4 separate regions of the Homo sapiens genome follow, and all the other regions are reported to be linked to region 2. The links are microRNA targets in miRTarBase. Many come from high-throughput screens and were not tested one by one. Region 2 holds a microRNA gene; each other region holds the end of a gene's coding sequence.
The links. Region 2 holds the annotated microRNA hsa-miR-3928-5p (UGAAGCUCUAAGGUUCCGCCUGC, at 1,684-1,706, shown strand). A microRNA usually pairs through its seed, bases 2 to 8, with sites in the 3' UTR of a target mRNA and lowers its output. Matches are read on the target gene's strand: a 7mer-m8 pairs with bases 2 to 8, a 7mer-A1 pairs with bases 2 to 7 and ends in A, and an 8mer does both.

Region 1 (5,154 bases), not on the chromosome of region 2:
AAGCATTACTGTATTCATTTCTGCCTGTCAAAGTAGGCAGGACATCAAAAACAGGAAGAACTTGTTCTAAACCAGCTTACTAATGATAAAAGTTTGACTTTTTCTGGCATTTAAGAAAAGAAAAAAAAAGTGGGATAGCTGGACAATGGTAGGAAGGAGGGAATTTGGGCATGCAACATAGGGTGTTTAACTCCTGGTATGTTATTTTACCATTTATACTGTCCTTCATTTTACTACACTAACAGGAACTGAAAATCTAAAAAAAAAATCTAATACATTACCTGTCATAATGACATTCTAAAAAAATTTTTAGCAGGTCACTATTTTGACAGATACTTATTTTTTTTCTTTCAGATCTTTCCTCGGATCCAGATGAATTAACAAATGTTGCTGTAAAATTTCCAGAAATTACTTATTCTTTGGATCAGAAGCTTCATTCCATTATAAACTACCCTAAAGTTTCTGCTTCTGTCCACCAGTATAATAAAGAGCAGTTTATCAAGTGGAAACAAAGTATAGGACAGAATTATTCAAACGTTATAGCAAATCTTAGGTGGCACCAAGACTGGCAGAAGGAACCAAGGAAGTATGAAAATGCAATTGATCAGTGGCTTAAAACCCATATGAATCCAAGAGCAGTTTGAACAAAAAGTTTAAAAATAGTGTTCTAGAGATACATATAAATATATTACAAGATCATAATTATGTATTTTAAATGAAACAGTTTTAATAATTACCAAGTTTTGGCCGGGCACAGTGGCTCACACCTGTAATCCCAGGACTTTGGGAGGCTGAGGAAAGCAGATCACAAGGTCAAGAGATTGAGACCATCCTGGCCAACATGGTGAAACCCTGTCTCTACTAAAAATACAAAAATTAGCTGGGCGCGGTGGTGCACACCTATAGTCTCAGCTACTCAGAGGCTGAGGCAGGAGGATCGCTTGAACCCGGGAGGCAGCAGTTGCAGTGAGCTGAGATTGCGCCACTGTACTCCAGCCTGGCAACAGAGTGAGACTGTGTCGCAAAAAAATAAAAATAAAATAATAATAATTACCAATTTTTCATTATTTTGTAAGAATGTAGTGTATTTTAAGATAAAATGCCAATGATTATAAAATCACATATTTTCAAAAATGGTTATTATTTAGGCCTTTGTACAATTTCTAACAATTTAGTGGAAGTATCAAAAGAATTGAAGCAAATACTGTAACAGTTATGTTCCTTTAAATAATAGAGAATATAAAATATTGTAATAATATGTATCATAAAATAGTTGTATGTGAGCATTTGATGGTGCTCGATGAGTTACTTGTATTTGATGGGATTGTTTGGATGTATTTAATGGGAGTATTTGGAGTATTTAACGGGATGTAAACCCTGGATGTACCTGATTTTGTTACTGTTTTATTTTAATAGGTAATATATATACAGGGTAAAAGCTTCAAATGGTACAAAAGGGTTAACAGTGATCGTGAAGTCTCTGTCCTTTCCCTCTTCCCTGCCATCCAGTTCCCCCTCCAAGAAGCAAGTACCGAAACCACCTGCTTACGCATTTTTAGAGATTGGCCACAAATTTATAAACAAATGTATATATTCCTTTCCCCCTACACAAACGGTAACATACTGCACACATTGTTCTGCATGTTGCTTCTTTTTCCTTTTTTTTTTCACTTAACAGTAGATATCTAGAGGTGAAATTACTGAGTCAAGACTATATTTAGCAAAATTACACTAGATACTACAAATTACCTCTAAAGAAGGTATACTAACTGATAATCTCACCATCAATGCATGTCTTCTTATCCTTTGCCAACCTAACAGATAAAAATGTTCTATTTTTATTTTTCTTTTTATGAGTAACGTAGAGCATATTTTCATGTATTTAACAGCCACTGGAATCTGCTTTACCATGGCCTTTCCTATTTCTATTCTTTGCCTATTTTTCTGTTGGTTGTTGGTCTTTGTTTTGTATTACAGGTGTGCTTTAGATATTAGCTTTTTGTAAGAGATCCTGCAAATATCTTCTTTCCAGTTTGTCATTGTCATTTGTCTTTTGACTTTGTTCTGGTATTTTTTGATATGTAGAAATTTTTATTTTCATGTAAGCAAATTTATGAATCTTTGTACACCATAAGTATATACAATTATGATTTGTCAATTAAAAATATTAGTACAAAATTTACAGATCTTTGCTTTTGTGGCTTTTGGGATTTTGTATCATATTTAGAATGGCCTTCTCCACTTGTCATTTTTTTTTTTGAGACGGAGTCTCGCTCTGTCACCCAGACTGGAGTGCAATGGTGCAATCCCGGTTTCAAGTGATTCTCCTGCCTCAGCCTCCCAAGTAGCTGGATTACAGGCACCCGCCACCACACCCAGCTAATTTTTTGTATTTTTAGTAGAGATGGGGTTTCACCGTGTTAGCCAGGATGGTCTTGATCTCCTGACCTGGTGATCTGCCCACCTAGGCCTCCCAAAGTGCTGGGATTACAGGCGTGAGCCACTGCGCCTGGCCTCCACTTGTCTTCTTTTATAATTTTATTTTTCACCTTTGGATCTTTGACCCAGCTGGAATGTATTAAACATATTAGAAATCTAACTTTGGTTGTTTTTTTAAATATGCCTACCCATTGATCTTTTATTGAGTAAACTGTCTCTTCTCCCATTCGTAAAAATGTCACTTCATCATATAATACCTTTGGTTGAGTACATTATCTTTTCCTCCATTGATTTGCGATGCCATTTTTATCTATACCAAAGTCCCATTTATACTTATGCCATTTCTGAACATTTTATTTTCCACTGGACCATTCTATTTTCTTTGTTTCTGTTTTGTTTTTTGTTTTTTTGAGACAGGGTCTTCCCTTGTCACTCAGGCTGGAGTGCAGTGGCACAATCACTGCTCACTGCAGCCTCAATCTCATAGGCTCAGGTGATCCTCGCACCTCAGCCTCCCTAGTAGCTGGGACCGCAGGCACGCGCCACAAAACTCAGCTAATTTTTTAAATTTTTATAGAGACAGGGTTTCACTGCATTGCCCAGACTGGTCTTAAAGTCCTGCACTCAAGCAACCTGACTGTCTCAGCCTCGCAAAGTGCTGGGATTACAGGCATGAGCCACCACACCCAGCCAGACCAGTCTATTTTATTAGTCTGGTAGACAGTATCTGGTAGGACTAGTCCCTTTGCAATAGTTTTCTTTTTTCAGAATTGTCCTTCCTAGCAACTCTTGATTTTTCCATACAAATTTAGAATAAGTTTGTGTAGTAACAAAAATGAAAAGTCCTGTTGGCTTTTAAATGAAATCATTAAATGTATAACCTACTTTAGAGAGAATTTAATTCTTTATGATAGTTATTCTAAATAATTAGCATGTTTTTCCCTTTATTCAAGTCTTCTTTTATATCCCTCAGTAGTAGTCTAAGTTTTCTTCATATAGATCAATTTGTCCGGAAAAATTTTTGAAAAGCAGAGACTTTAAAAAATACCCCCCTAGGCTCTACACTACACCACTTGATTAGAGCTTCTGAGACAGCCTGGGCCTGCTGTGCTATTATTGTTGTCTTGCTGGTCAATCCCTCCAGCCATGATTCTAATATGTAGCCAGAGGTGGGTTTATTTCCAGTTGTTTTATCAGTTATTGTGATTTTAAGTGAATCTTCCTTCCATTATATCCTCTAAGAGAAGATCTTCTTGTTTATATGTGCACTCCATTTCCATATATTTATTTTATGCTGAATCACTTCATAGTGAGTAATAGTTTTTCAAGTGATATATTATTTTCCAAGTAAAAATCTTACCTGCAAATAATTTTACCCAACTTAATACTTCTTCAAACTGTCTTTGAAGTTTTCTTCATGAGTAAGTTCATCTCCTTTATTTATTTGTTTATCGTTCTTCAGTGAATTTATATGAGCTTACCTTTGCAATTATGAATTTCTGAGAAATGATTTTACTTTTGAATATATCTGATTTTTATTACATATGTATATACACATGCATACACAAACACACATATTCTGAAGTGAAACCCTTAAAAAGAAAGACTGAGTATTAAGGTTAAAATTAAACTATACAAATCCACCATCCATCTCCTAAATAAGCCTAAAGAACACAAGTAGCTAAAGTATGGGTATATATGCTAATCATAGAGAGAAAAGCAATAACAATAGAAATGTGGTCCTGAAAATAGGCTTGTGAAGATAAATCTACTTCATTCTACCCAAACCCTTTAAGATACACATTCATTGTAAGAATTTACCAAGCATCTGCCATGTTTTAAGCATATTAAGTACAGGATCATAATTAGGTACAGTTGAATATTCAGGACAATATCTAATTCAGAATGGTATCTAACAATCATGAAAACCGAAAATTAAGAAAAACGCACAAAATCAAGACAATTATCTAATGCCAGAATCTGAGAGGAACTGACACTAATTAGAAGCTGGAATGAGAATAACCTTTGGGCTTCCATTTTTACTACCTCCACTACTAACTTCTTGTTCTAATCCACCATGATCTGTGCTTGGAATTTTGCTGTTGACTCTTAAGAGGTCTCCATGAATCTGTCCTTGGCTTCCTTCAGTCTGTTCTCAACAGCAGCCAGAGTGAGCCTGTCAAAATACAGATCACACCCCTGGATACTCAAAGCTCCCACTGGTTTCCCATCTTTTTCTGTAAAAGCCAGAGTCATTACAATAGCCTGTGGGCCCCAAATAATCTGGTAGCATGTTCTCTCTAAGACCGCTTCTCCTCCTATACTCCTACCTGATTTACTGTGCTCCAGCCACATGCATCCCTGTTGCTTTCCAGACAGACACACCAGGCATGCACCACCAAGACCTCTTTGCGCTTGTCAATTTTTTCTGCCTAGAGTGCAGTTCTTCCTTCAGATTTTTTCATGGCTCACTGTTATTTCCTTGAGGTCATGGCTCAAATGTCACCATCGCACAAGGACTTTCCTGCTTTATTTTTCTCCATAGAAATTATTACCATTTAATTTAGTGTGTGTCTTACATAATTAATGTGTTTGAGCTGTCTTTTACCCTTTCTGACGGTACTAGAATAAAAGCTCCAACCAGGCATGGCGTTTTGTCCCTTTTCTCCATAAAGTATCTCAAATGCCTAACACATAGTAGAAGCTTAGTAAATA
Region 2 (5,154 bases):
AGCCAACAGACTGCAAAAATTCTCTCACATCTATACACATATTGCTGAAGAGAGGATTCAAGCAGGGATTATGTTCCAGGGAAGAGAAGGCTGGTCTGAACAACCTCAAGGGGTGCTTTCAACTGAGAGTCCTCAATTTTGTGATTCAGAGTTCACTGGCTTCTCCTGGTCAAACATAAAATCTTCAGAGGCATTTCCAACTTGTTCTTAGAAAAAAGCTACTAACCCATGGGGTGGGACCCAGTTTACTTATTCATTCAATAAACATTTAAGGTGCCTCTATCAGATATTGGGTCATTCCAAAGTCCTTGAAAAGAAGGATGGTGCACAGGACAACCAGGAAGAGATTATGTAAGGTCAGATGCATTGGCCTTATTTACAGGAGATGTAGGCTAAAGTGATGGAAGTGTCAAAAGAGAAGAAAAAAGTCACATTTGCCTTGAGAGCAGAGTCAGCACCAGAAAGATGCAGAACAACTCCTTGGAATCACAGACTTTCAAGTTGGAAAGGACCTTCATCTAATACCTATATACCTCCCTCGAAAGGAGGCACGGAGGCAATCCATTCACTCCATCGGTGGTCACCTCTGACGATTCTTCCATTTAAGTTCTTCTATTAAGCAAAAATCTTGCCTTCCTGTAGAATTCACCTGTTAGTCCTAGTTCTGCCTCTTTTAGCCTAAAGATGAAGTGGAAGCCCTCTTTGCCGTAACAGTATTTTCAATTTTTAAAAAGTTAATTCCCTTCCAGTGCTCTCTTTACTGAGCTAACCATTCCAGTTCTTTCAAAGTTCCTGAACTGGCACCAGCTGCCTCAAAGCGAAGAATGGATATCTAGTGCTCACAGCAGGAAAGCACTTAAAATCAATGAGCTTCAAACATTAGTATATACAGGACCCCCCTACGCATAAGTTCAGATTCTAAACCAGAAGTCTGAATTGAGTCCCGCGCTGTAAAGCCGGCATCTCAGAGAATTACAAAGCAGATGGTGTAAGAACCATATTTTGAAAAACACTGCCCCGTTTTAGAGACGAGAAAACTGAGGCCCAGCACAGGGAAGAGATTTGGCCCAGAACGCACAATTGTCTGTCGGTGGCGAAGTCTCGAATCCAGGTCTCTTACTTTCAGCCCAACTCTGTTCACCGCGCTCCCCGGCCTCTGCTTCTCCACTCAGGGCAAACTCGTGAAATGCACTCCCAGATGATAGAGGCGGTCTCGCACGGGGGATAGAATGGGAATCAGTGCCCATGCCTCGAAAGGAGAGCTTGTGGGAGCCCTTCTCTTTCGCAAGGCCTCAGTTTCCCCAATCTGTATTCATGGGACGCAGAACCACAACGCCAGCTCGTCCTCTTTTCGGGGACAGACACGACCGGTCTTGCTGTCTCTGGGCCCCTGGGCTCAGATGTTCAAGCCCGTGTGTCCTGGGAAGGCGGACCCGGGTCTCCCGCCCCCGTCCCTAAACTTTGGCGCCCCCGCCCCAACCCCAGCCCCTCACATACCTGCCTCCGCACAGTTAACGCCAGCCCAGTCAATCAGTTTTTCGGGTACACGGCCAATACTAACGCCGCGTCAATCTGTTGGGTAAGACCTCCGACCCCTCCTACGCGGACTCCAGTCACATGACGCGGAGCCGCCCCTCTCGGAGGGACTTCCGGCCCCAACCGGAAGAGGTTAATTTCCATGGCTGAAGCTCTAAGGTTCCGCCTGCGGGCAGGAAGCGGAGGAACCTTGGAGCTTCGGCAGCTTTTCAAAGAGCTTTGGGTTCGGGGCTCCTAAAAGAAAAAAACTGATTCCGGCCGGGCGCGGTGGCTCCCACCTGTAATTCCAGCAGTTTGGGAGGCCGCGGCGGATGGATCACTTGAGGTCAGGAGTTCGAGACCAGCCTGGCCAAAATGGTGAAACCCCTCTGTACTCAAAATACAAAAAGTAGCCGGTCGTGGTGGCGCACACCTGTAATCCCAGCTACTCGGGAGGCTGAGGCAGGATAATCGCTTGAACCCGGGAGGCGGAGGTTGCAGTGAGCTGAGATCGCACCACTGCACTCTAGCCTGGGCGTCAGAGTGAGACTCCGTCAAAAAAAAAAAAAAAAAAGAGAGAGAGAAAGAACTAACTCATTCCGGAAAGTACCAGATAAACTTGGAACATCTTGTTACACCAGAATATAAGGATGATGGTAATAAGAATCATGGGAATGTGTCAAAGAACACAGGAGCTGTCTTTAAGGAGATCTTACTGGCCAAGTCAGGGCAATTTCAGAATCAAAATATGGAGTGATAGTAATAGAGTATAACTAATTGAATAAAATAGTAATCCATGAGTCTTTACAAACATAAAGAAGTGAGCATATTAATGGGTGAAGGGAAAGTCTTCCTTTTAGTAGAATGCTAGCTAATAAACATGGTGGAATTAGGAAATCAATAATGTGTGGTAAAACTAGAGAAACGGGATGTTTACAACAGCAAAAGTGTCTCCCATAAATTAGCTATTGATTACAAAGGGAAAATGGTGATGTTACAGAGGTTTAACCTAGCAGAACAAACAGATCAAAGTGATCAAAGTTAACACCACTAGTTAATGGGTCAGATCAAGGGCCTCCTAATAAAATGCACTGAGAACACATCTGTGGTATTTCTGTCAAAAGTGCACCGTACACATCTCATGAGGAAGTGCTAGAGAACCCCAAATGAAGGACACTGTCTACAAAATAACTCATTGTCATGAAAAACAGAGAAAAGCTGAGGAACTGTTCCAGTTTAAAGGAGACTAAAGAAGCATGACAACAAAATGTGGTGTGTGATTCTAAATAGGACCCTGGACTGGGGTAGTGGTGGTGGTGGAATAGTTGTAATGGACAATATTGGGACAAGTAATGAAATTTGAATATGGATTGTGGATTAGCTGTTAATACATATTGTATCAAATCACATACTGATAGGTGATGGAGCTTGTGATTTGCACTCAAGCAGTCATTGGAGTTCTTGACAGCCATCTTCATTCATTCAACAAGCATTTATTAAGTACCTACAGTTATCCCAGGAACGGTTAGGGATCGGACCTGAGTAGGAGGTGAACATAGTAGATAAAGGCCGGCGCGGTGGCTCACGCCTATAATACCAGCACTTTGGGAGGTCGAGGCAGGCAGATCACCTGAGGTTAGGAGTTCGAGACCAGCCTGGCCAACATGGTGAAACTCATCTCTACTAAAAATACAAAAATTAGCCAGGCGTGGTGGCGGGCACCTGTAATCCCGGCTACTTGGGAGGCTGAGGCTGGAGAATTGCCTGAACCCAGGAGACAGAGGTTATAGTGAGCCAAGATCGTGCCATTGCACTCCAGCCTGGGCGACAAGAGTGAAACTCCATCTCAGAAAAAAAAATAAAAAATAGTAGATGAAATAAGCTCATAGATGAAAGTCCTAGTCTGCCAGCCACCTTTGCAAGTTCCTGTGATCAAGAAGTAATACAAGGGATGTTTCCAGTCACACAAACCTGGATTTGAAACCAAGCGCTAAGAGAAAAACAGCCCCTGACATCCAGGAGATGGTCTGGCACTCACAAATAGACCTTGGTGTGTTCTCTTATTGAACATAAAAACTTCACAGAACATCAACATCAAACAAAGCCACTATGTGACCATGATGGATCAAGACAATAACAAAACCACTTGAATCATGTCTAAACCCAGACAAAACATGAGCATTGTTCGAACTACAAAAATGGCCAAACATTTCCCTATTCTGGCTTGTATAGAGATTATAGATTTAGCCTCGGTCTACTCTTCCCTCCTTCTAAATAATGTTTATCAAGGTACTCACTCATAGGCAGCATCCAATCCAGAAAACCCCATTTTCTTAAGCCCTCGTCCAAATCACCTAATGCAAGCCCAAATCCTATGTGTCCTTTGTAACACTTTGTTACTGAGATGCCCCTTTGTTTGTTTGTTTGTTTGTTTGTTTGTTTTTGAGACAGAGTATCACTCTATCACTCAGGCTGGAGTGCAGTGGTGTGATCTCGGCTCACTGCAGCCTCTGCCTCCTGGGTTCAAGTGATTCTTCTGCCTCAGCCTCCCAAGTAGCTGGGATTACAGGCGCCCACCATCACTCCCGGCTAATTTTTGTATTTTTAGTAGGGACAGGGTTTCACCATGTTGGCCAGGCTGGTCTCGAACTCCTGACCTAAGGTGTTCCTCCCACCTTGGGCTTCTACAGTGCTGGGATTACAGATGTGAACCACCAAGCCCAGCTGCCCTATTGTTTCTCATGATTCATGTCCTCTCACCCTTACCCCATAACAAGTGATAAACTCAACTTGTTTAACCACAGGTGTGTTCCAATTTCTTCCTTCCTCAAAAAGTTGTTATGAGGATACTCGGAACAGGTTCATCACAGAGTGAGCTTTCTCTATCAATCGATCCATTATCTATTTTTTATTTTTTTAAAAAAACATGGTCTCAGCCTGTGGTCCAGACTGGAGTGCAGTGGCACACCATCCTAACTCACTGCAGGCTTCAACTCCTGGGCTCAAGTGATCCTCCCACCTCAGTCTCCTGAATAACTGTGACTACAGGCACGCACCACACCCAGCTAATATTTTTTATTTTTCTGTAGAGACAGGGTCCTGCTGTTGCCCAAGCTGGTCTCAAACTCCTGGCCTCAAGGGATCCTCCCAGTTTGGTCTCCCAAAGTGTTGGGATTACAGGCATGAGCCACCTCACCCAATGCTTTCAATATACTTTTAAAAATTATACATATATTTTTGAGACAGCACCTCACTCTGTCACTCAGATTGGAGTACAGTGATGCCATCTTGACTCACCTCAACCTCCGCCTCCCTAGCTCAAGCGATTCTCCTGTCTCAGCCTCCTGAGTATCTGGGATTACAGGTGCATGCCACTACCACCCAGCTAATTTTTGTATTTTTAGTAGAGATGGGATTTCACCATGTTGGCCAGGCTGCTCTCGAACTCCTGACTTCAGGTGATTTGCCCTCCTCAGCCTCCCAAAGTGTTGGGATTACAGGCGTGAGCCACCACGTTTCCCCCTCAGCTTGCATTGTTTCTGGGAGAACCTGCACCATACCTTTATCTATAGCTTTCCCCCAGGTCTTAAGAAGCACGAAGTTTTAACTGTGGACACGGGATTTGGTGAAGCAGCAATC
Region 3 (5,154 bases), not on the chromosome of region 2:
ACAAAAACAAAAACAAAAAAAATCCCCAACCAGCTGAGAGACTTGAATGTCTCAAGGAATTAGGATCTCACAGTTCTCCGTTACTGGCAACAGCCAGACTTAAGTCATTTTGGATTAGCTGTTATACAGTGTTAAAAACTGTGCAACTCTAGAATTGAAGTATAATTATTTTATTAAATTATTTGCTAATAACCAGCCAGTTTTTTGTATCGTAAGGACAGTTACAACCAAATATCTCTGAGTAGCAAAATATAATTTTAGGGCCTAGTGTTATACGTCAGGCCTAACCTCTACTGTGCAAAGATCATAAATTGAAGCTAGATAACAATATGAAGCCAAAAAGCTATTCAAGCTAACCACCAAAAAAGAATAGTGCTGCTTCAAGTTATAAACCTCAGTGACCATTTAAGTGAGGTCCCATAATGCCATAATATACCTGACCTATTTTATGAATGGTCAAGGAGTACATTTCTGCTTTATTAGCTAAGTAGCCTGTCAAGTTCTTAGTGATCAATGGTGAAGGGAAAATATCCCTTTTTAAGCCCTGTGCTGGTGAGTCCTCCCGGCTCCAGGAACATCTCAAGAGTGCATACTAATTTAGACAATAAAGATGTGGCAGTTACTAGATTCAAACTTACATGTTGTTTTTTCTTTTTTCCCTAAAGGAGGGGCAACCCCCTTCATTTATCTCGTGAGCGGTATCGGAAGCTCCATTTGGTCTGGCAACAACACTGCATTATAGAAGAGATTGCTAGGAGCCAAGAGACTAATCAGATGTTATTTGGATTCAACTGGCAGTTACTGTGAGCTCCAACTCTGCCTCAAGACAATCACAAATGACGACAGTAGTAAAGGCTGATTCAAAATTATGGAAAACTTTCTGAGGGCTGGGAAAGTATTGGAGGGTCTTTTGCTCCATGTCCAGGTTCACTTACATCAATAAAATATTTCTTAATGGAGTATTGCTTTCAATTAGCAAACATATGCTTCACAGGAAAAAAGGACATAGATCAATCTGTTTTATGTGCTAGTATTTCCAGGAATTTATTCCCCTTCATAATTTGTCTCATTTCATTTTATTTCATCCACTTGGTAGATGAAGTCACGTCAAACAGTTGTAGACATTTTATATGTTGGTTAACTCTTCTGCAATTTTGTATTTGGTGTTTTCCCCCCAAGTTTAGTTCAACTGACATTGGATCACTGACAAAATTCTAATAATCTGTGATAGTCTTCCTTGCAGTTAAAGAAGAATTGCAGAAACCATGCAATATACTTGGGAAAGATTCCAAAAATAAATTTTTTATTATTTCTCTTTTAAGGAAATACCCCTAATGTGCCACCTGCTGCTATCACCACAAATTAAACTCAATCTCTATGTGGACAGAGGATGATTTCTGCCAATATGGAAAAGCTTTTTTCTCACTGTAGGCCTCAAGAAAAGTTAGGGTAATGTATTTGTTATTCATTCCTGACGGTACAAAGAGCTTGCAGTTCTCACCTCTGACTACCAGTAGCTTTGTTGAGTTTTGAAATAATACTTGACATTTTCCAAAGGCAAATCTCATTCTGCAAGGAGATTGTGGCACCATCCTGTTTGACTCTCAGAAACCTCTTGTAATTCTGATGTAAAAACTGTAGAATGAAGATGAGAAAATTCTCGCAATGAGTGGATCATGACAACTGTAAATTAGAACAATCAGATTTAAACCAATTCCGCAGTCTTCTATATCTTTGTAAAAGACAAATCCTTGATGTTGTCTGTGTGCAACCTTTTCATAAACTCTGGTTTTATGACTAGTACAAACCACCAAAAAAGCCATGTGATCAATAGTCTGTGTCCTGTTATAACATGCTGTGGTTGAGCCATCTTGTTTATAAATAATAGAGCTCTCCTGAATTTGTGCATAGACTTCTTGGTTCCTGGCTTTTGTTTTTTGTATCAAGAGATTGTGATATAAAACAGCAGAAGATAAATGGAAACCTTCCATTTTAACTTACGTTGTTTCTGGGGTAATGTTAGAACCTTGAAAGATGCATTCAAAGACTGTATCTTATTTTGCCCTTGGCTATTAGTGTCTCACATATGTGTGTAAATGTTTTCCTACCTTCTTTTTGCTCAGCAAAGGCAAGCAAGTAAAATATATTTGCTAAGTGATTAGTGATGCACATTTGGGGCTAGATTTTTTTGGTACTTTTATGTAAAGAAAAGTGGATTTTGCAGTAAGGGATTGGCATGAGCAGGCGTCAGAATCACAATCATGATTTTCTACTTGAATAATTACAATTCAGAAGGTATCTGGATAAATAGATACATGTCTAGTGAACAATTTGTAACAATAACAGGTAAGGATCAGGAAATTCAGTATTCAGTTTGTCAGATTTGCCAGAATGATGAAAGTATTTGAACATGTGTGTTTGTTTCTTATATAATTGTATTGAGTGGATTGTTTGACTGGGAAATCTGGGCTAGAATAGGAAACAGAAGATACTGACTTCTACCCTAATAGATGGGCCCCAATTTAGCAAAGATAAACTGACTTTATTTTTAGTCCTTTTTATATTAACTTAATAAATTCTGGAGTTAGGCTCTCAAGAGGACAGAGGGACTGTCTGGCAATGGCCAGCCAGACCTTTACTGCCAAAGAACCCATTTCATATTGCGTTCCACTGATTGAGATTGATTCAGATTTTTGCACTGTAGATGAGCGTATGTCTCAGTGCTGCCCCAAGCCCCAGGGATTTCTCATTATGTTCAAATGTCCTAGTGATTTACCTTAATCATTGCAAACAATTATGCTTATGAAGTTTACTTACAAACAAGCAACTGAGTCACTTTATTTTCTTTAGTGTAGTATGTGAAGGCACTGGTTCAACAGGATGGCTCCAGAACTGTGTTTTTCTAATGTTTGGTAAGGGGCTAGTGAGAATTTTAATGATATGGTGAAGAAAAATATATCTGTATAATTAATTTATTATATTGGTGTATGGGCTGTGAGTTCACCTTTTAGTGGTCATTTGTCATTTCATAACAACTATGCATTTTGGTTCACTGTGATGATGATCTATATTTAGTGACTGCAACATGTTTATACCACTGATTCAAATTCCATCCATGATGAAGTTATACAAATAATGCATATATTGATAACTTTTATTGCAAAAATGTAAATTTAAAACTTGTATAATGTTCTTGTGCTTTTTAAAATAAAATATATGTGTATATTTAAAAAGAAAAATAGGGACTTCTCATGTTTGGGGATTTGGGTTTGAAGTATAAAAATCTGCTAGGAAGACTCTCCAGTTGAAACCTTTGTCAGCCGAGGCAAATGTTTTAAAAGACATAGGTGTTTAGTATACATGGGTCTCCAAACTTTTTAGCCATATACTCCATCAATAAATAGTTTTTAGCATGCATACCAAATAGAATATAAACACATAACACATATTTTATATTCTATATGCAGTGCTTTACTAATACATCATGCAAATTATAAAACATAGCTTTAAAAGGAGATTTAAAAATCAGTTAAAAATAGAAATAGATATTTAAATATCTTCCAATCCAATCTGCATCCTTTTGGGTATGCACGCTCTAATATGGAGACAGCTGTCTAGAGCAGCAGTATCCAGAAGAGTTTTGCAATAATAGGAATGTTCTGGCCGGGCGCAGTGGCTCAAGCCTGTAATCGCATGACTTTGGGAGGCCAAAGTGGGGGGATCACGAGGTCAGGAGATCAAGACCATCCTGGCTAACACGGTGAAACCCCGTGTCTACTAAAAATACAAAAAATTAGCCAGGCTTGGTGGCGGGCATCTGTAGTCCCAGCTACTCAGGTGGCTGAGGCAGGAGAATGGCGTGAACCCAGGAGGCGGAGCTTGCAGTGAGCCGAGATCACACCATTGTACTCCAGCCTGGGTGAGAGAGTGAGACTCTGTCTCAAAGAAAAAAAAAATGTTCTGTGTGTATTTACCATATGGAATGGCAGTCACTATTCTCATGTGGCTGTTGAACACTTGTGATGTGGCTAGTGCAACTGAGGGCCTGAATTTTTAATTTTTAGTTAATTTAAATGTAGTCATGTGTGGCTGGTGGCTACCATATTGGGCAGTATACATCTAGTGTGATGGTTCTCAAACTTAACTGTGCATTACAGTCACCTAGAGAGTATTAACAAAATACAAATGCCCAGTTCTCACCCTCGATCTGGAATCAATCTTGTGGGATTGAGCCTTAAAATAAGCAGGGTGGTTTTCTTCCATTTCTGAGCCATGACTCTTCATAAAATGAAGAGTTTGCTTTCTTTTTAGCTTGGTGATTTTCAGACTAAGTGCCAAAGATTCTGGGAGAAACGTAGGCCCGAGAGGGGAAAGAGTGCCAAAGCTGGATAGTTGTGATTTTTCATTTTGAGTTTCTGTGTAAGCTTTCATTTGAGAAAAGGGTACCTGGAATTTTTAAAAGGTTAGATGCAATTGCTTTAGTTTTAAGCTTTAAAATATTCTATGAGGGGGCCAGGCACGGTGACTCATGCCTATAATTCCAGCACTTTGGGAGGCTGAGGCGGGCGGATCACGAGGTCAAGAGATCAAGACCATCCTGGCCAACATGGTGAAACCCTGTCTGTACCAAAAATACAAAAATTAGCTGGGCATGGTGGTGCGCACCTGTAGTCCCAGCTACTCAGGAGGCTGAGGTGGGAGAGTCACTTGAATGTGGGAGGTGGAGATTGCAGTGAGCTGAGATTGTGCCACTGCACTCCAGCCTGGCAACAGAGTGAGACTCCATCTCAAAAAAAAAAAAAAAAAAAAAAAAAAAAAAAAAAAAAATTCTGTGAGGGGCAACACTGAAGGCAAAGAACGGTTTTTGTCTGTTTTTTGTTTTGAGTCGGAGTCTCGCTCTGTCACCCAGATCAGTCAAGCGAAATTTGGGGAAAAAATAGAAATGAAGACTAAGAAGGAAGACAAAAATGAAAAGTTACCAATGGAATGCACAGTAAGGAAAAGCTGGAAAGACCTGGGCATTGTGGCGCACCTGTAGTCCCAGCTACTTGGGAAGCGGAGGTGGCAAGATCCCTTGAGAAGGAGGTCAAGGTTGCAGTGAGCTGACATCACACCACTGCCCTCCAGCCTGTGTGACAGAGTGACACCCTGACA
Region 4 (5,154 bases), not on the chromosome of region 2:
GCAGAATGTGTTACACCTAATGGATGTTCCAGGATCTGTGGACGCCTTGAATTTGAGCTCTGTCACATCCATTCCCTGCCTTCTGCTCAGCATAAACCAGGATTAAACGATCCTAAGAATCTTTAGCAGTCTTAATAATGTATGGGTTTCTCTACCCCCTTCTCTTCTTTTTTCCCCTCCAGTTTCACTCTCATCAGCTGTTTCATATCTTTGTGGTTGCTGGAGCTTTTGTTCACTTCCATGGTGTCTCAAACCTCCAGGAGTTTCGTTTCATGATCGGCGGGGGCTGCAGTGAAGAGGATGCACTGTGATACCTACCAGTCTCCAGGGACTATGACCCTAAACCAGGGCCTGCGGCACTTGCGGGCCTCCCTGCTGGCTACTGATGCCAGTACCAGAGGAGCCCCAAAACTTTGACAGCCTCGTGGGCTTTGTGACGGCCCAGTGGCTCTGCGTGGTACATGACTGAGAAGAGAAAAACAAAAATAAATCATACCTCAAAGGATGGAGTGCATCAATTGGGAGAAAAGGAGACATAGCCCAAACCCTGGCTTATTCTTGGGATCTACTGATTGCGGGCTCTGCAAGACCCTTGGCAAACTGGCTTCTGATCCATATCATATTTATTTGTAGAAGATGGCGAAACAGTTTAGCTGGTGGTTCTTTCTTCTCCCTTTCTCTCTCTCTATGACAATAATACAAACCAATTTAAGTGAACATTTATATCCGATAAGGGGTGGGAGTGTGATTTTAAATGCTCTTTTGGGAGAACAAAGAAATTAATGTAAATAAGATTTCTAACTGTTTAAATAAGACTTTATATAAATGTTTAAAACATAGGGGTAAGGGAGGGAGGGAGAATTTTTGTATAGAATGAAACATGCAAGTACCACACACTGTTTGAATTTTGCACAAAAAGTGACTGTAGGATCAGGTGATAGCCCCGGAATGTACAGTGTCTTGGTGCACCAAGATGCCTTCTAAAGGCTGACATACCTTGGACCCTAATGGGGCAGAGAGTATAGCCCTAGCCCAGTGGTGACATGACCACTCCCTTTGGGAGGCCTGAGGTAGAGGGGAGTGGTATGTGTTTTCTCAGTGGAAGCAGCACATGAGTGGGTGACAGGATGTTAGATAAAGGCTCTAGTTAGGGTGTCATTGTCATTTGAGAGACTGACACACTCCTAGCAGCTGGTAAAGGGGTGCTGGAGGCCATGGAGGAGCTCTAGAAACATTAGCATGGGCTGATCTGATTACTTCCTGGCATCCCGCTCACTTTTATGGGAAGTCTTATTAGAGGGATGGGACAGTTTTCCATATCCTTGCTGTGGAGCTCTGGAACACTCTCTAAATTTCCCTCTATTAAAAATCACTGCCCTAACTACACTTCCTCCTTGAGGGAATAGAAATGGACCTTTCTCTGACATAGTTCTTGGCATGGGAGCCAGCCACAAATGAGATTCTGACGTGTCCAGGTTTCTCCTGAGCTCATCTACATAGATTGGTAGACCCTTCCTTTGGATTAGGAAAGATGAGTTTTACCTCTGGTACACTGTCTTGGTAAGCCTGGATGTGACAGACACCTCGGCTCTCCTTGAATAAGAAAGCCAGCAGAACTCTTAAAGCCAGTTGTAGTACGGAGTTGTCAGCACTCACTGAACCTCACTTTACAGGGATAAGAGTGGTGTGGCATTTTAAATACAATGGTATGTTATTGCCAGGGAGTGAGGTACAAGACGATGGCTCATGTCACAGGCCTACCTGATACGGTGTCAGAGAAAGTGGTGGGGAAAGGATCTGGTTCATGGAATTCTGATCTTGGCCCATAGGTGAACCACCAAAATAGTGCTCGAGTCTTAGGTTACTGTCATCAAAGACTTGGGATGACTCCATTATATCCTGGGGTTGTGGGTATTAGAACTAAATATGGAGGTCCTGAGCATGGGGACTGGCGTCCTCAGTAGGTGTTTGGGAATATGGGAAGGGTCTCCTATTTATTCAATAGAGTTTTCTCAGTTATTTTCCTCCCTTGCCCTTGCAATCTCCAGCAAAAGGTGGGATCTAGGAAGAAAGAATCCAGTGTAGAAGTTGAGAAGAACTTGAACGTTTTGGTTCTGGATAAGGTCACTGTCCTAGGTGCTAGGTGGACCGAGCAAAAGACTCAGTGGATGAACTGGTGCAGTGCCTGACAGAATAAAGAACAGTATTAATCCCTTTGAGAAAGCATAGTCCAGCAGGACAGTGGCCATTTGGACAGAAGCCCACTTAGTTTCTTGGGAGCAACAGCACGTATCAGAAGCCAGACTTGCTCTTCGGTCATGCACTTTGGGATACAGCGTATAGGTGCAGCCCTGTCACAACACCAACAGAAGTAGCAGCCTCTGGGTGCAGTCACCCACACCCCAAAGCTGGAAGGATCTGGTTCAACATAGCACAAACCCTTAGGAAAAATGAAATTAACATCACTGATGTGTAATCCAGTAAAATCTCCCTTTTTCGGGTGTGTATGTGGGCATGTGCCCATTTCTATGTGTGTGTCTACGTGCAGCTCACTACCAACAGCCTCATGTGCACTTGACCTGACAGTGCTCGCTGAGAACTCTCACCAGGTTGGCGCCTGAATGCCTTACTCTCAGCAGTCAGAGGCTTGCTTGCTCTGTGCAGATTTTTAATTTTCTTTTTTGGCCCTAGGCTGGTTGGGACCTCTACAGCTTCATTCTTTCACCATTAAATAGTGGCCTTTTTCAGTATTTTCCCTCTTCCCCTTTATAAATTATGCTAAAGCCACAAAGCACATTTTTGGGGATCATAGAAGGTTGGGGTTCCAGAAAGGCATCTGTGTGATGGTTCCATTGATGTGGGATTTCCCTACTTGCTGTATTCTCAGTTTCTAATAAAAAGAACCAAATGAAATATGACCTGTCGTGTGTTTTTTTATTGCCGTTCAGCTTACCTCCCCTTGGCTTTTGGCACTTCTCTGAAGCTCTAATTTAGACACTGTGATTTAAGAAATTTTTGGAAACTTCCCCTTCGGGATGCAGAAATCAAAGTGCTTATGCCCAACTCCTGTTTCCTAACTCAAGCTTTCCTCGTAAGTTGCACCAGGTTTAGAATGGAGGGGAGAGCAGCTCTAAGGGGCAGTTCTTATTTATTATTGAAGTTTATAAAAATAGTCTCTAATGCCAAGGGCAATAGGCTCTACCATAAAGCCTGGGTGTGTAGTAGGCTGTACCATCTAGGTTTGTGTAAGTGCATTCTATGATGTTTGCGTGACAACGAAATCAACTAATTATGAAATCACTTAATGATACATTTCTCAGAATGTATCTCTTTTGTTAAGTGAAACATTACAAAATTTATTTTTTTGGGCACGGTGGCTCACTCCTGTAATCCCAGCACTTTGGGAGGCCAAGGCGGGCGGATCACGAGGCCATCTCCTACAGGCAGTGCACATTGACTAAGTTCATTCCTTGCTTTTGCTGTTGTTTGCTATTATAAATAGGATTTTGTCTTCAATTATATCTTCTAAAAGTTCTTTTGATTGGTGAAAGCTACTGATTGCTGAATATTGGTTTTTTACCCCGACCATTTGCTGTTTTCTCCTCCTAATCATAATTTTTTCTTAGTTGGTTTCCAGTAATAAAGTCATGTTGTCTGAGAAAAAAAAAAATAGTCTCTAATGTAACACTTGATGCCAAGGGATGTGTTAGAGAACTGTCGATGTCATATGATCATAATCACAACCCTCTGAGCCATTCAGGAGTATTTTCACTCTCATTTTATAGATGGGGAAACTGAAGCTTAGGAAGTTTAAGAATGACTCTAGTGCCAGCACTGTATTGGAGAAAAGAGTGAAGAGAAAATTTAAGAAAACCTTTCTGTATTTGTTATTCTGATTAAACAGTGTCATATACATTGACTTAAAGGTTTTGGGGTTCATTAACCTAGTCCCTTCTATATAAGAAGAGGATCTGGTTCGAGTTGGTGTTTGAAATAAAAAAAAAAAAAACGGAATTCCAACCCTTTTGCCTTAGGTAAATTTAGTTTTTGGAAGGGCATTTCCAGTATCAGGATAATATGTTCATTCTGAATTCTCATTTTTAAGTATAGATTTAACTTTAGAGTGTCCCATACCTTACCTGGGCATAGACATTGGATCATTCCCTGCTTTTGACAAACAGTATTAGCTGAAGCCTACTAATAACCCACTTGTCTTTTCCTCGTCTCTTCCCAAAAGGCATCTGAGCCGGGCATGGTGGCTGACGCCTGTAATGCCAGCACTTTGGAAGGCCGAGGTGGGCGGATCACAAGGTCAGGAGTTCGAGACCACCTTGGCCAAAATGGTGAAACCCCGTCTCTACTATAAATACAAAAAATTAGCTGGGTGTGGTGGAGGCACCTGTAATCCAGCTACTTGGGAGGCTGAGGCAGGAGACTCGCTTGAACCTGGGAGGTGGAGGTTGCAGTGAGCTGAGACCATACCACTGCACTCCAGCCTGGGTGACAGAGCGAGACTCCATCTCCCAAAAAAAAAAAAAGTGTCTGTATGGTTCCTGATACCCAGGTGATGTTATGTGGTTGTAGAGGAAGTAGATAAGGACAAGTTTGGATTCTGACTGTACAGCGTGCTAGGCTCTGGGTGCCTAGAGAACCCTCTGGGCAATGTTACTTTAAAATCATCCCAGAAACAACATCTTCTTGAATATTTGGCTTCAATTGTAGTGTTTCATTTTGTCTTCCCCTCAGAGGGCATGAACCATTTGCTAGCCAGCACTGCTCCCTACCCACCACCAACACCCTATCTAATGTACAAATCTTTTCTGCCTTCAGCTGTTTGACTTGGTGAAACAAGGGCAGCCTGTCTCACTCATGTAGAGGCTGCTTATGATGGCATGGGGCAGGAAGGAAGCGTCACGTGCGATGGCCTCTTGTCACCGCCATCCTACTGTCCCACCGTCCCTACCCTGCTACACTACCTGGAAATGAAAAGGGTAGCTTCAGATCTCAGTTGTGCCATTTGCCATGTAGCATGGGCAAGTGGCCGTTTGCTTGTCTAGCCTCGGTGTTCTGTTAAAATGAGGCCAACGATACATCCTCTAGAGCCCACGCTGAGATGCTGTGGTTTCTATAGATAATTTCCTCAAACTTCCCATA

Region 1: the mRNA of ARSK is a reported target of hsa-miR-3928-5p. Seed matches in the 3' UTR shown: 7mer-A1 at 1,438-1,444.
Region 3: miRTarBase lists UBR1 as a target of hsa-miR-3928-5p. The part of its 3' UTR that is shown has no 7-base or 8-base seed match.
Region 4: the mRNA of ADIPOR2 is a reported target of hsa-miR-3928-5p. Seed matches in the 3' UTR shown: 7mer-A1 at 2,710-2,716.

Annotation. Positions count from the first base shown.
Region 1 is chr5:95,602,883-95,608,036 of GRCh38, forward strand. It overlaps ARSK (arylsulfatase family member K), which reads left to right. Exons shown (of 8, transcript NM_198150.3): 8 at 355-2,220. The coding sequence ends at 644. Among named protein-coding and RNA genes, the nearest start is that of GPR150, 15 kb to the right of the region's middle.
Region 2 is chr22:31,156,647-31,161,800 of GRCh38, reverse strand. MIR3928 (microRNA 3928) reads left to right here and starts at 1,682; the gene lies at 1,682-1,739. RNF185 (ring finger protein 185) reads right to left here and starts at 1,619. Exons shown (of 7, transcript NM_152267.4): 1 at 1,498-1,619. It also overlaps the pseudogene SNRPNP2.
Region 3 is chr15:42,940,982-42,946,135 of GRCh38, reverse strand. UBR1 (ubiquitin protein ligase E3 component n-recognin 1) reads left to right here. Exons shown (of 47, transcript NM_174916.3): 47 at 666-3,239. The coding sequence ends at 807. Among named protein-coding and RNA genes, the nearest start is that of TTBK2, 23 kb to the right of the region's middle.
Region 4 is chr12:1,785,762-1,790,915 of GRCh38, forward strand. ADIPOR2 (adiponectin receptor 2) reads left to right here. Exons shown (of 8, transcript NM_024551.3): 8 at 183-2,913. The coding sequence ends at 311. Among named protein-coding and RNA genes, the nearest start is that of LRTM2, 32 kb to the right of the region's middle.